Linked DNA regions of Homo sapiens. The protein of the gene in region 1 interacts with the protein of each later gene in a biochemical or structural test. Each region holds a gene or a part of one and is shown in the gene's direction. Other genes may lie near its edges.

What was found. Proteins that work in one complex are often made in the same cells at the same time.
Region 2: the proteins of YES1 (region 1) and PEAR1 interact in a surface display test, tested with the Homo sapiens proteins (one large-scale study listed by IntAct).
Region 3: the proteins of YES1 (region 1) and EIF4G3 interact in a surface display test, tested with the Homo sapiens proteins (one large-scale study listed by IntAct).
Region 4: the proteins of YES1 (region 1) and RBM33 interact in a surface display test, tested with the Homo sapiens proteins (one large-scale study listed by IntAct).

What each region holds. Positions count from the first base shown.
Region 1 is NC_000018.10:732,243-735,742, reverse strand, and holds part of YES1 (tyrosine-protein kinase Yes), read left to right. Parts: intron 1-2,777; coding exon 2,778-2,909; intron 2,910-3,500. UniProt on the Homo sapiens protein: Non-receptor protein tyrosine kinase that is involved in the regulation of cell growth and survival, apoptosis, cell-cell adhesion, cytoskeleton remodeling, and differentiation.
Region 2 is NC_000001.11:156,913,824-156,916,929, forward strand, and holds the end of PEAR1 (platelet endothelial aggregation receptor 1 isoform 1 precursor), read left to right. Parts: intron 1-28; coding exon 29-277; intron 278-823; coding exon 824-975; 3' UTR 976-2,606; downstream 2,607-3,106.
Region 3 is NC_000001.11:21,166,898-21,170,397, reverse strand, and holds part of EIF4G3 (eukaryotic translation initiation factor 4 gamma 3), read left to right. Parts: intron 1-2,358; exon of another isoform or gene 2,359-2,437; intron 2,438-3,500. UniProt on the Homo sapiens protein: Component of the protein complex eIF4F, which is involved in the recognition of the mRNA cap, ATP-dependent unwinding of 5'-terminal secondary structure and recruitment of mRNA to the ribosome. Functional homolog of EIF4G1.
Region 4 is NC_000007.14:155,651,161-155,654,660, forward strand, and holds part of RBM33 (RNA-binding protein 33), read left to right. Parts: intron 1-3,500. UniProt on the Homo sapiens protein: RNA reader protein, which recognizes and binds specific RNAs, thereby regulating RNA metabolic processes, such as mRNA export, mRNA stability and/or translation.

The sequences.
Region 1 (3,500 bases):
GTAGGTTTTTTTGTTTGTTTTTTTGAGACGGAGTCTCACTCTGTTGCCCAGCCCAGGCTGGAGTGTAGCGGCACGATCTCGGCTCACTGCAACTTCCGCCTCCCAGATTCAAGCGATTCTCCTGCCCCAGCCTCCCGAGTAGCTGGGATTACAGGCTCGTACCACCACACCCAGCTAATTTTTGTATTTTCAGTAGAGACGGGGTTTCACCTCCAACATGTAGTCTTTTATCCACCCCCCAACCTTTCCCCCTTACTCCCCAAAGTCCATTATATTACTCTTATGCCTTTGTGTCCTCATAGCTTAGCCCCACTTTTAAGTGAGACCATACAATATTTGGTTTTCCATCCCTGAGTTACTTCACTTAGAATAATGGCCTCTAGCTCTAAGTTTCTGCAAAAGACATTATTTCATTCCTTTTTACGGCTGAGTAGTATACCATGGTGTATATATGCCACATTTTTTTTTATCCACTCATTGGTCAATGGTCATTTAGATTGGCTCCATATCTGCAATTGCGAATTGTGCTGCTATAAACATTTGTGGATGTATCTTTTTCATATAATGATTTTTTTTTTTTTGCTTTGAGACACAGTCTCAATCTGTTGCCCAGGCTGGAGTGCAGTGGTACAATCTCAGCTCACTGCAACCTCCACCTCCCAGGTTCAAATGATTCTCCTGCCTCAGCCTCCCCTGTAGCTGGGATTACAGGCACCTGCCACCAGGCCCGGCTAATTTTTGTATTTTAGTAGAGACACGGTTTCACCATGTTGGCCACGCTGGTCTCAAACTCCTGACCTCAGGTGATCCACACGCCTTGGCTTCCCAAAGCGCTGGGATTACAGGCGTGAGCCACCACACCTGGCTGATTTCATTTCCTTTGGGAAGATACCCAGTAGTGGGTTTGCTGGATTGAATGGTAGTTCTGCTTTTCGTTCTTTAAGGAGTTTCCATACTGTTTTCCATAGTGGTTGTACTAATTTACATTCCCACCATCAGTGGAAAAATGTTCCCTTTTCACCACATCCACACCAACATCTATTGTTTTTTTTTTTTACTTATTCATTATGGCCATTCTTACAGGAGTAAGGTAGTGTCTCACTGTAGTTTTAATTTGCATTTCCCTGATGATTAGTGATGTTGTATGTTGTAGTTGCTCCTGGTTTTTTTTGTTTTGTTTTGTTTTTGAGATGGAGTCTCACTCTGTCACCCAGGCTGGAGTGCAGTGGCGCGATCTTGGCTCACTGCAAGCTCTGCCTCCCGGGTTCTCGCCATTCTGCCTAAGCCTCCCGAGTAGCTGGGACTACAGGTGCCTGCCACCAAGCTCGGCTAATTTTTTTTTTTGTATTTTTAGTAGTGACGGGGTTTTACCGTATTAGCCAGGATGGTCTCAATCTCCTGACCTCATGATCCGCCCACCTCGGCCTCCCAAAGTGCTGGGAATACAGGCGTGAGCCACCGCGCCTGGCCAAGTTTTGCTTTTTTGCCCAGACTGGAGTGAAGTGGCATGATCTTGGCTCACTGCAACCTCTGCCCCCCAGGTTCAAGCAATTCTCCTGCCTCAGCCTCCCGAGTAGCTGGGATTACAGGCATGCACCACCACACCTGGCTAAGTTTTGTATTTTTGGTACAGACAGGGTTTCACCGTGTTGGCCAGGCTGGTCTTGAACTCCTGACCTTAGGTGATCTGCCCACCTCGGCCTCTCAAATTGCTGGGATTATAGGCGTGAGCCACTGTGCCCAACCACCTGCCACTTTTTAAATAAAACATTTTGTAATGGTGCCAAGGAAAATTGATCATCTGTTTGTCTAAATATCTAAAGAACTCTGTTTTAAAACACTATCTACAAACACATATAAATAACTTAAAGAATGTAAGACACCTATAATATTATTTCTGCAATAAGTTTATAAACTTCATGAAAGCCATGCTTTTTTTTTTTTTTTTTTTTTTTTTTTTGAGACGGAGTCTCACTCTGTTGCCCAGGCTGGAGTGCAGTGGCGCAATCTCAGCTCACTGCAAGCTCCGCCTCCTGGGTTCACACCATTCTCCTGCCTCAGCCTCCCGAGTAGCTGGGACTACAGGCTCCTGCCACCTCGCCCAGCTAATTTTTTGTATTTTTGGTAGAGACGGGGTTTCACCATGTTAGCCAGGATGGTCTCAATCTCCTGACCTCATGATCCACTCACCTCGGCCTCCCAAAATGCTGGGATTACAGGCTTGAGCCACCGCGCCCGGCCGAAAGCCATGCTTTTTAGGTTTCCATAGTGATTAGCATAATGCCCTCCACAAAAAAGATATACAGTAAGTATTTGAGTTAATTAACATGGACTTTTAAAAGTAGTACAATAAAATTTTCCAGAATGATATAAAAAGTAGGAAAACCCATAAACATTATAACTCAATAGAATATTCACTCATCAACCAATAGTTAACTACAGCTATTAGGTGCCAGACTGTACTTAAAAGTTACACATATTATAACATGTATCTTTGGCTTACTAGAGCTTCAACCTCTATTTTCTTAAATTGTTTTCTGTTCCCACAGCCAACTTATTTTTTATATCATCAGCTGTCTAATCAGGAAGAAATGTGATTTATTTCAATATGAATTTTAAAAATTAAAGAATTTTTATCCCATGTATCTTGTACATTTAAAGAATTGACACTGATGACTACAGTAGAGATATTGACAGAACATTAGCCCTGCATATGCTATGTTTACACAAATAGATTTTTAAAAAACAATTAAGCAAGATGGTCAACATTATTTTAGGTGCAAAATTTCCAATCAAATGGACAGCTCCTGAAGCTGCACTGTATGGTCGGTTTACAATAAAGTCTGATGTCTGGTCATTTGGAATTCTGCAAACAGAACTAGTAACAAAGGGCCGAGTGCCATATCCAGGTAAGCTTGCATTTTATAGCTCTTGGTTATCTCATGAGTGGCTTTATCAGGAGTTTATTAGGAACAGAATTGTAAGCGGGGAAAAGGCCTTTATTTCTTCTCATAGTCCCCCTGCCTCTCCCTCTCCCCACTCCTTCCCTTTACTGTGGCATTGGATGGGTAACTGTGGCATTGGACGGGTAAGTCAGTGAAAGCCACGATCCTTGACAGGGTGAGCACATGAGATAGGCCCCACATTCACCTCAGCTTTCTCAGGACATTTTCCAAAGGGGCCTCTTACTGTTCTCTCAGATAATAAACATATCTTAAATATCCTGGCTCATCCACCCTATACCCTAAATAACTGTTCTTTCCCAGTAGTGTGATTGGTGTTTTGTTTTTTTTTTTTTTTTTTTTTTAAACACAGTCTTGCTCTGTCACCCAGGCTGGAGTGCAGTGGTACAGTCTGGCTCACTGCAACCTGTCTCCCGGGTTCAAGCAATTCTCCTGCCTCAGCCTCCCAAGTAGCTGGGATTACAGGCACCCACCACCACACCCAGCTAATTTTTTGTATTTTTAGTAGAGATGGGGTTTTGCCATGTTGGCTAAGCT
Region 2 (3,106 bases), on another chromosome or scaffold:
CGGCCTGACTTCTTTCCTCTATCCTTAGGGCTCATCTCTGAAGAGGAGCTCGGGGCCAGTGTGGCTTCCCTGAGCAGTGAGAACCCATATGCCACCATCCGGGACCTGCCCAGCTTGCCAGGGGGCCCCCGGGAGAGCAGCTACATGGAGATGAAAGGCCCTCCCTCAGGATCTCCCCCCAGGCAGCCTCCTCAGTTCTGGGACAGCCAGAGGCGGCGGCAACCCCAGCCACAGAGAGACAGTGGCACCTACGAGCAGCCCAGCCCCCTGATCCATGGTGAGCCCTCCCTCTCCACTGGCAGGAGCAGCAGAGAACTGGGACAAGGGAGGCAGAAAAACAGAAGGAACAGAGGGAGAAGAGAAGGCATGATGTGGCATCAAGAGTGAGGCCTTTGGGGTCAGCTTCGGGCTCAAATCAGGCATGACGGGGAGGCGACGTGGCCTCTCAGAGCCTGTGTCCTCATCTGGAGAACAGTATGGTGTACCTTCTTCGCAGAGCTCAGGATAGAAGTGGGGTCGTACAGCATCAGAGTGGTGGAGTTGGTACCCAGAAAAGTAGGGAGCCAGGCAGGTGATAAAGTCTCCTCATATCCTGGGAGGTGGGCGGGCTGAGGTGGCTTTCTCCATTGGCAGCTGAGAAGCTAAGAGAGTTTTGCTTGGAGCCGCACGGCCAGCTGATAGTAAACTGGTGTATGTATCCAGGCCCCATCTGCTTCTCTTTGCCTTGAAGAGGCTGAAGAGGAGAGGAGTGCAGTGGGAGTGGAGGGAGTGGGGAGAGTGGTGGGAGGAGCCACTCCCTCTTATCTTGTCCTCATGTTTCCAGACCGAGACTCTGTGGGCTCCCAGCCCCCTCTGCCTCCGGGCCTACCCCCCGGCCACTATGACTCACCCAAGAACAGCCACATCCCTGGACATTATGACTTGCCTCCAGTACGGCATCCCCCATCACCTCCACTTCGACGCCAGGACCGTTGAGGAGCCAGGATGGTATGGCAGAGGCCAGCACACCTGGCTGTTGCTGCTCAAGGCTGGGGACAGAGCCTAGTGTACCCCTGCCAGGAGCAGGGAGTGGACCGGCAGGCTGTGAACATGAACAACGCTTAACAGAGCAAGTGATGGGAGCCTTGTTCCTGGGTTCTACCATGGGAGACGCTGATCAGCAGGATGCCTGGCTCCCTTTCCCAACCCACTGCTCCCAAGGCCTCCAGGGCCCTGTGTACATAAACTGGTGGGTTGGAAGTTGCTGGGTAACTCTGATTTCAGACATGCGTGTGGGGTACCTTTTCTGTGCATGCTCAGCCTGGGCTCTGTGCGTGTGTGTGTTTCTGTGATTTTAGAAGGGTACCAGGCACAGGTTCTGTCCTAGGGCACTTACCATTTAGTAGGGAGATGGAACCAACCCAATTAACTCTAGCAATAGCCTCCTAACTGGCCTCCTCCATTGATTCAGTGAACCTTCCAATGCATGGCTCATAATTTCAAAATACAGGCTGGTTAGTTACTCCCTACCTGAAAGCCTTCATAGGTGCCTCTTTGCTCTTCTGCCAGTATCAAAACTTTTGAAGGCCTTAAAGGCCCTGCTTTGCCTGGCCCATCTGTCTCTCCAGCCTCACCTTGAACTGTGTTCCTGTCACTGCACGCCAGTCACACCGGCCTCTAGGTCCTCCTGTAGGCCACTCTTCTTTCTGGCACAGGGACCTGCACACCTGGAGTGCCCTTCCTCCCCCACTCGCCTGTTCACCCCTGCTTTTCCTTTACACCTCCTCCTCAGGGAAGTGCCCACCCTCCGTACATCTTTCACAGCCCTGATTGCAGCTGTGTTCACTCACCAGGTACCTGCAGAAGGCCTACAGGGTGCCAGGCACTTCTTTAATGTGTTCTTTCTTTATGTGATTATTTGATTAATCTCTGCCTCCCCCACTAGACTGTAAGCTCCCTGAAGGCAAGAATCCTGTGCTTATGCTCAATATTAGCTCTCCCTTGGCACAGAGTAGGCACTCAACAAATGCTCCCCAAAAGGCTGAGTGGCTGACTGAATTAAGTACCAGTGACATGCAGTAACTGCTAAGATAGATGAGCCATCTGTATGCTCTGACAGTTACAGACTGAATAAGTTGGAGACTTCCCTAAAGGGTGGCATTTCCCCAGGGTAACAACGCAGAGCTCAGGTGTGGGAAGGTGCCAGGGGCAGGGGTGCAGAGGGGCTGAGGCTGAGGGGGGTGCAGAGGCTGGAGAAAGGATAACAGGAGAGAGTATACAGGCATGCCTTGATTTATTGCACTTCACAGGTAGCAGAATTTTTAAAGAAATTGAAGGTTTTGGGACATATATGTGACAGCAATAGGTTAAGAAAAGCAAAGCAGAGAAATTGAAGATTTGTGTCAACACTGCTTTAAGCAAATCTGTTGGCACCATTTTTCCAATAGCATGTGCCCATTTTGGGTCTCTACATTGCATTTTGGTAATTGCTTGCAATATTTCAAGCATTTTCATTGTTATTATATGTGTTATAGTGATCTGTGATCAGTGATCTTTGATATATTATTGTAATTGTTTCGGGGCGCCATGAACCGCACCCATATAACACGGTAAACTTAATCAGCAAACGTTGTGTGTGTTCTGACTGCTCCACCGACCAGCCGTTCCCCCAAGTCTTTCCCTCTCTTAGGGCCTCCCTATTCCCTGAGACACAACAATATTGAAATGAGGCCAATTAATAACCCTACAGGGGCCTCTAAGTGTTGAAGTGAAAGGAATAGTCACACATCTCTCACTTAAAATCAGAAGCTAGAAATGATTAAACTTAGTGGGGAAGGCATGTTGAAAGCCAAGACAGGCTGAAAGCTAGGCCTTTTGCACTAAATAGCCAAGTTGTGGATGCAAAGGAAAAGTTCTTGAAGGAAATTATAAGTGTTACTCCAGTGAAAACATGAATAATAAGAAAGTGAAACAGCTGGCCGGGTGCGGTGGGTCACGCCTGTAATCCCAGCACTTTGGAAGGCCAAGGCAGGTGGATCATGAGGTCAGGAGTTTGAGACCAGCCTGGCCAACATGGTGAAACCCTGTCTCTACTAAAAATACAAAAAATTAGCCAGGTGTGGTGGCG
Region 3 (3,500 bases), on another chromosome or scaffold:
CACCTGGCCTGTTGTGTACTTTTTTGAGCCCACTGTGTGCTGCCTGACTTTATAAGACATTGAATTTTGTTAATAGAATGTAAACTCCATGAAGGCAGAGATTTTTGTTTATTTTGTTCACTGTGGAATTGCTAGCACCTAGAATACTGCTTGACAGACAGTAGGCAGTCTGTAAATTTATTTGTTTGTTTGTTTGTTTGTTTGTTTATTTATTTATTTTTGAGATGGAGTTTCACTCTTGTCGCCCTGGCTGGAGTGCTAGTGGCACAATCTCAGTTCACTTCAACCTCCGCCTCCTGGATTCAAGTGATTCTCCTGCCTCAGCCTCTAGAGTAGCTGGGACTACAGGCGTGCACCACCACGCCTGGCTAATTTTTGTATTTTTAGTAGAGGCGGGGTTTCACCATGTTGGTCAAGATGTTCTCAATCTCCTGATCTTGTGATCCGCCTGCCTTGGCCTCCCAAAGTGCTGGGATTACAGGCTTGAGCCACCGTGCCTGGCCTGTAAATATTTATTAAATAAAAAGTGTGTTGGACTTTGGGAATCAATTTGAAGATAAGTTTTAGGATTAATATAGATGGCATCACAACTCACTTACAGCATTCAAAGCTGCCCTCAAATTATTTTGCAGGGATGTATAATTGAATTGAAAATAATTCTGTAATTTCCTTTCAGATGGAATAGCATTGACCCAGTTTACAAAGCCATCTGAAGTGCCTGAGTTGTATTTGAAGTACATATTGATACTGAGGATTAGGGTTGGTATGAAGGCCAAAGAGGAACAACATCTGTAGTCAAATATTATTATTAAAAACTTATGATTATAAGAGCAAGACATAATTAAATGAGAAATTTGGAAAAATATAGAAAAGTAAAAAATCACTCATAATCTTATTAGTGGAGACAACCCCTTTTATTTTATTTTATTTTATTTATTTATTTTTTTGGGGGGAGAGAGTGTTGCCCTGTTTCCCAGGCTGGAGTGCAGTGGCACAATCTTGGGTCACTGCAACCTCTGCCTCCCGGGTTCAAACAATTCTGCCTCAGCCTCCCAAGTAGCTGGGATTACAGGTGCATGCCATTATACGCAGCTAATTTTTGTATTTTGGGTAGAGGTGGGGTTTCACCATGTTGGCCAGGCTGGTCTCGAACTCTTGACTTCAGGTGATCTGCCCACCTCGGCCTCCCAAGGTGCTGGGATTACAGGTGTGAGCCACCGCGCCTTGCCACTTTTTTAAAGAGGTGGGGTCTTACTCTACCTCCCAGGGCATGGTCATGGCTCACTACAGCCTTGACCTCCTGGGCTCAAGCAATCCTCCCACCTCAGCCTCCCAAGGAGCTCGGACCACAGGTGTGTGCCACCACACCTAGCTAATTTTTTTGTAGAGATGGGGTTTTGCCATGTTACCCAGGCTGGTCTCGAACTCTTGGGCTCAAGCCACCTGCTCACCTTGGCCTCCCAAAGTTCTGGGATTACAGGCATGTGTCCCAGTGTGTAGCTGTGATAACCACTTTTAACATTTTGGTGTATTTCTGTCCTGATTTTTTTTTTTCTGTGGATTTTAATATTAGTGGTCATACATTTTTGTAACATAAAGTCAGATTATGTACCTAGTTTTGTATCTTGCTTAATTTGCTACCTAAGTATCTGCCATGAAAAGTACTTTTTTTGGCCAGGTGTGGTGGTTCATGCCTGTAATCCCAGTACTTTGGGAGGCTGGGGCAGGAGGATCACTTGAGTCTAGGAATTTGAGACCAGCCTGGGCAACATAGTGAGACCCCATCTCTAATAAAAATTAAAAAATAGTTTGCCAGGAGTGGCAGTGCATGCCTGTAGTCCCTGCTACTCAGGAGGCTGAGGCCGGAGGATTGCTTGAGCCCGGGAGGTCAAGGCTGTAGTGAGACCTGATTGTGTGATTGCACACCAGCCTGGGTGAAAGGGCAAGACTGTCCCCCAAAAATAAAAAGAGATACTTTTTTTTTTTAAAAAATTGAGACGGAGCCTCGCTCTGTCACCCAGGCTGGAGTGCAGTGGCACGATCTCAGCTCACTGCAACCTTGGCCTCCCGGGTCAAGCAATTCTCCTGCCTCAGCCTCCTGAGTAGCTGGGATTACAGGTGCCCTCCACCACGACCGGCTAATTTTTTGTATTTTTAGTAGAGACGGGGTTTCACCATGTTGGCCAGGCTGGTCTCAAACTCCTGACCTCAAGTGATCTGCCCACCTCAGCCTCCCAAAGTGTTGGGATTACAGGCGTGAGCCACCACACCCAGCCAAGAGATACTTCTTGAATAGTTTTATTCTGTATCTACTTGAAATATAAGTGAACTTTTTGTTTATTTGGAATGCTTTTCTTGGGAATATTTTTTCACCTTTGGCTTTTAGCTTAGAAGTTATGACTGCACATTACAAAGGGGAATGTTCAAACCTTTATCAGTAAGTCAAACATCTTTTGAGTTATTGTTCCTGTAATGTTTTGCATTATTTGCAAGATTAAAACTCAGTGTAACATCACAAGTTTTTTTCCCATACAATTATTTACATTTCTTTATTATCTCTTTAAGTTCATCTTTATATGTTCAAGTATACTAAGTTTTTAAAAAAGGCTGGGAGCCAGAGTCCTAATTTTTTTTTTCTTTGTGACGGAGTCTCACTCTGTTGCCCAGGCTGGATTGCAGTGTTGTGATCTTGGCTCATTGCAACCTCCACCTCCCGGGTTCAAGCGGTTCCCCTGCCTCAGCCTCCTGAGTAGCTGGGATTACAGGCACCCGGCACCACGCCTGGCTAATTTTTGTATTTTTAGTTGAGGCAGGGTTTCACCATATTGGCCTGGCTGGTCTTGAACTCCTGACCTTGGCCTTCCAAAGTACTGGGATTACAGACGTGAGCCACTGCACCTAGTGTATTTATATATTGGCCAGGCTGGTCTCGAACTCTTCATCTCAGGTGATCCATCTGCCTCAGCTTCCCAAAGTGCTGGGATTACAGGCGTGAGCCATCGCGTCTGGCATTTAGTTGGTTTTCAGGAAGTGTTAGTATCATGAGGAGTGATTGAAGGAAGGAGGAAAAGACCACAGGGATTCATGCGGGATGAGGGAAAGAGGATTGAAGTGTGGGAACAAACATAATTTTGGAATAAGGAGAGAAAATTAAGTGGGAATAGAAAATGAACACAGCCAGTTTTAAACCAGAATACTATTTTTACATTGAGAATGGAAAGGACTGAACCTTGAAGGTTAAATGAGATGATTCCTGACCTTTTTTCTAGGTCCTAGTAATTAGTATGTAAGAAATAGAACTTGGTCGGAGAACTTGGCCAGGTGCAGTGACTCATGGCCTGTAATCCCAGCACTTCAGGAGCCCAAGGTGGGTGGATTGCTTGAGTTCAGGAGTTTGAGACCATCCTGGATGACATGACAAAACCCCGTCTTTACAGAAAATACAAAAATTAGCCAGGCGCGGTTGCACGTGCCTGTAGTCCCAGCTACTTGGGAGGCTA
Region 4 (3,500 bases), on another chromosome or scaffold:
AGCCACTGCACCTGGCCGACAGCTTCTTGAGTGTGTGTGTTGAAGGTAAATTTTTTGAGATTGAGACTCCTGAGTCTGAAGGAAATTTTAATTTTCACAACTTGATTGGTGGTTTTGTTGGGTCCAGAATTTTAGATTTGAGTTTATTTTTGTAAGATTTTTGGCGGTATTGTTGTGTTTTCTGGCATCCAGATCTGCTCTTGAGAAGTTTGAGGACATTCTGATTCCTAATCATTTTTTATGTGACCTTTTTTCATTCTAGAAGTTTTTAACAACATTTTCTCCTCTTTGTTTGACATTTCATCCCTTAAACTCAGCCATTTAGAAGGCTTCATGGCTAGGCCAGGAGGTGGAGGTTGTAGTGAGCCGAGATCGCACCACTGCACTCCAGCCTGGGCAACAGGGAAACTCTTTGTCTCACCAAAAAAAAAAAAAAAAAAAAGGGTCTAGGTTCCTGGGAAAAGAAATGAGTGTCAGTTCCTATAGATTTTAAGTCATGATGGGAACATCCAGTAGGCTGAGCTCAGCTCACTTGCCTCTTCTCGGCTACCCAAGTTTATAGAGCAAGCCTTTATAACTTCCATAATAGGAGGGGTCCTATCTCATATCAAGCAGGAATTCTATTATGATTGATTTTTAAACCCTGAATGATGAAAGTTTGTTGAAAGACAAACAAATGACCAATGAGGACTACACTTCATAAACAAAATAAAAACTTCATTTTAGGGAGAACCTCTCCTGGGGCCCGTGTAACATAGGAGATTTTTAAAACAGTGACTACAAATTATTTCTAAAGCAACATGGTGTAGGAACTCTTTCTGAAAATTTGGCTTGGCTATTCAGAACTTACTAGTTATGCTGTAAGGCTCATATGTTCACTTCGAAAGTTATTGGACATTACCTGATTTGTAGTTAATATTTAAATAAAGGATCTGGATTTCCTCATCTATAAAATAAGGAATTTTGACTATTAGTGATTTGGACTAGGAACATATTATACATGAGTGTGATATTGAGGAAAAAGAAGGTTGAGAACCTTTGGAATACAAAGGTCAGCAAACTTTTTCTGTAAAGGGTCAGATAGTAAATATTTTAGGCTTTGCAGGGCAGATGAGTTTTGTTGGAAGTGCTGAACTCCGCCGTTTACCTTGAAAGCAGCCATAGACAATATATGCCTGAATTGGAATAGCTGTGTTCCATTAAAAGCTTATTTACATACACGGGTGGTAGCTAAATTTGGGCAGAAACAGGTGGCAGGCCCTACTTGGCCCATGGGCTTTGGTTTGCTGACCCTTAGATTAGATAATTGCTAGAACCCTATCACAAGCTAATAGTCTATGTGGTATCTTATCCAAGTCGAGGATTCTGGAAAAGAAGAAGAAATAGAATGGTAAGTAAAAGTTTGTGTTAACTGTAGATGTCTGATTGCTGCATGATAGAGAATTGTAGAAATCTAGTAGATATCTTCAGTCTTGAAGGAAAATTGATCCCCCTATTAAAATAGAATGTCTTGTACAATGTTTAGGCCTTAGAAGGAGATTTTCCAGGTAAGGAGGTCATTGACCTCTTTCGTTTTGCTCAGTTAATATTTTACCCCTTGGCTTTCATGGATGTGCTGTTCTTCCTTTAAAGTTCTGGACTAATGGGGACACATTTTTTCTTCTTGGTTCTGTTTAATATGACTGCTATGAACTGGAACTTTAAAAAGTATTTGTATTCTAAAGGAAAACAGAGGGAAATGACTCAGAATATATTAAGAATATAAACAGGCTGTACAGGGTTCTTGTGTTAGCTTGCCCTGTAAGATTTTGAGTCATTATTTCACTTAGCATGATGTCTTCAAGATTCATCAGTGTCGTAGCATGTGTCAGAACTTCCTTTTTAAGGCTAAATAATATTCCATTATATATCTATACTATTTTTTTTTAAACCATATATCCTTCAATAGACACTTGAGTTGCTTCCACCTTTTGGTTATTGTAAATAATACTAATAGGAGCTTGAGTATATTAATGTGTCTTCAAGTGCCTGCTTTCAGTTCTTTTGAGTGTATACCCAGAAATGGAATTGCCACGCCAGTCCTTGGATTTAGGGGCCAGTCTTAATCCAGAATGACTTCATTTTAACTAATTACATCTGCATAGATTCTATTTCTAAATAAGGCCACATTCTGAGGTTCTGGTGGACATGCCCTTTTGGGGGATGCTGTGGTATGATAAAAAATGAATATTTTTTTCTGCCCAGGTTCCCTCGGCAGAACTTTGGAAACCCTTTGAATTTACTATCTTTTCTACACTAATGAGATGGCTTATAGCGGGGGTGGGGGCCCTAGATAGCTTTGGGGTGGGGGCTTGTCAGAAAAACTAACCCCATGTTAAGAGGGTTAGAACGTTCAGGCTCAACCCCCAGCCTCCCTCGAGGGGAGGGGCTGGAGATTGGTGGTAATCACCATTAGTCAGTGATTTAATCATCAGGTTTAGGGAGCTTCTGAGTTGGTGAGCACCTCCTCGTGCTGGGAGGGTGGTGCACCCTGACCCTTCAGACTGGCCCTGTGTACCTCTTCATCTGGCTCTTCATTTGTATCCTTTATAATAAACTGTAACAGTAAGTACGGTGTTTTCCTGAGTCCTGTGAATTGTTATAGTAATAGCAATGGGGGGAGGTGTGATAACCCCAGAATTTGTAGACTTCAGCCAGGGAGAAGTGTGAGTAGCCTGGGCACCTCATTGCAGTTGGCATCTGAAGTGGGGCAGCCTTGTGAAACTGAGCCCTTAACCTGTGGGGCCTGCCCGAACTCCAGATGATTAGTATTAGGATTGAATGGAGTTGTTGGTATTGCAGTATGATTGTGCAATTTGGTACAGTCAGCAAGTCAAACTTTTAAAAAATATTGCAAAAGATGGCTGAGTGAAGTGTAATAATACACATGCAGCATTTTAAAAACCAAACTTATTAACTTCTACCCCACCCTCAAATAAACCAGCACGTATATCCATCAATCCACAACTAATCCAGATTCAAAATACTGATGTTTTCATTGACTTCTCCTTCCTTGTTCTATTCAGTTAGTCAACATGCCTTGGAATTTCTAAATTGACAGTTTCTGGTTCATGCATTTGTCTTATTCTCCCTTCTGTTTCTTCACCGTGATGCTAACCACATTTTTTTTTCTTAATGGTTGGTTTGTAGTTACTTTGTTTTACCATTGTTTATGTTTTATCGATTAATTAGTTCTTGCTTCTTGCTACTAGATTACCTTTCCTAAACTGAGGCTGTGTTGCATATGAAGTATAGATTTCTTACGTTGCTTTTCTAGTAATGCCCCAAATCTTTACCACCTTTTCTTTCTGACTACTTCTCTCTATGAGTGTGCTTTCAACTCACCTGAACTCCTTGCTGTGCTCTAGGCTTGTGGAACTCAGCCTCTGTGCTGTTATTTCCCTGGAATGCCCATCTACTTGACAAAAATGTAGTTATTCTCAGCCTTCATCTCAGTTATT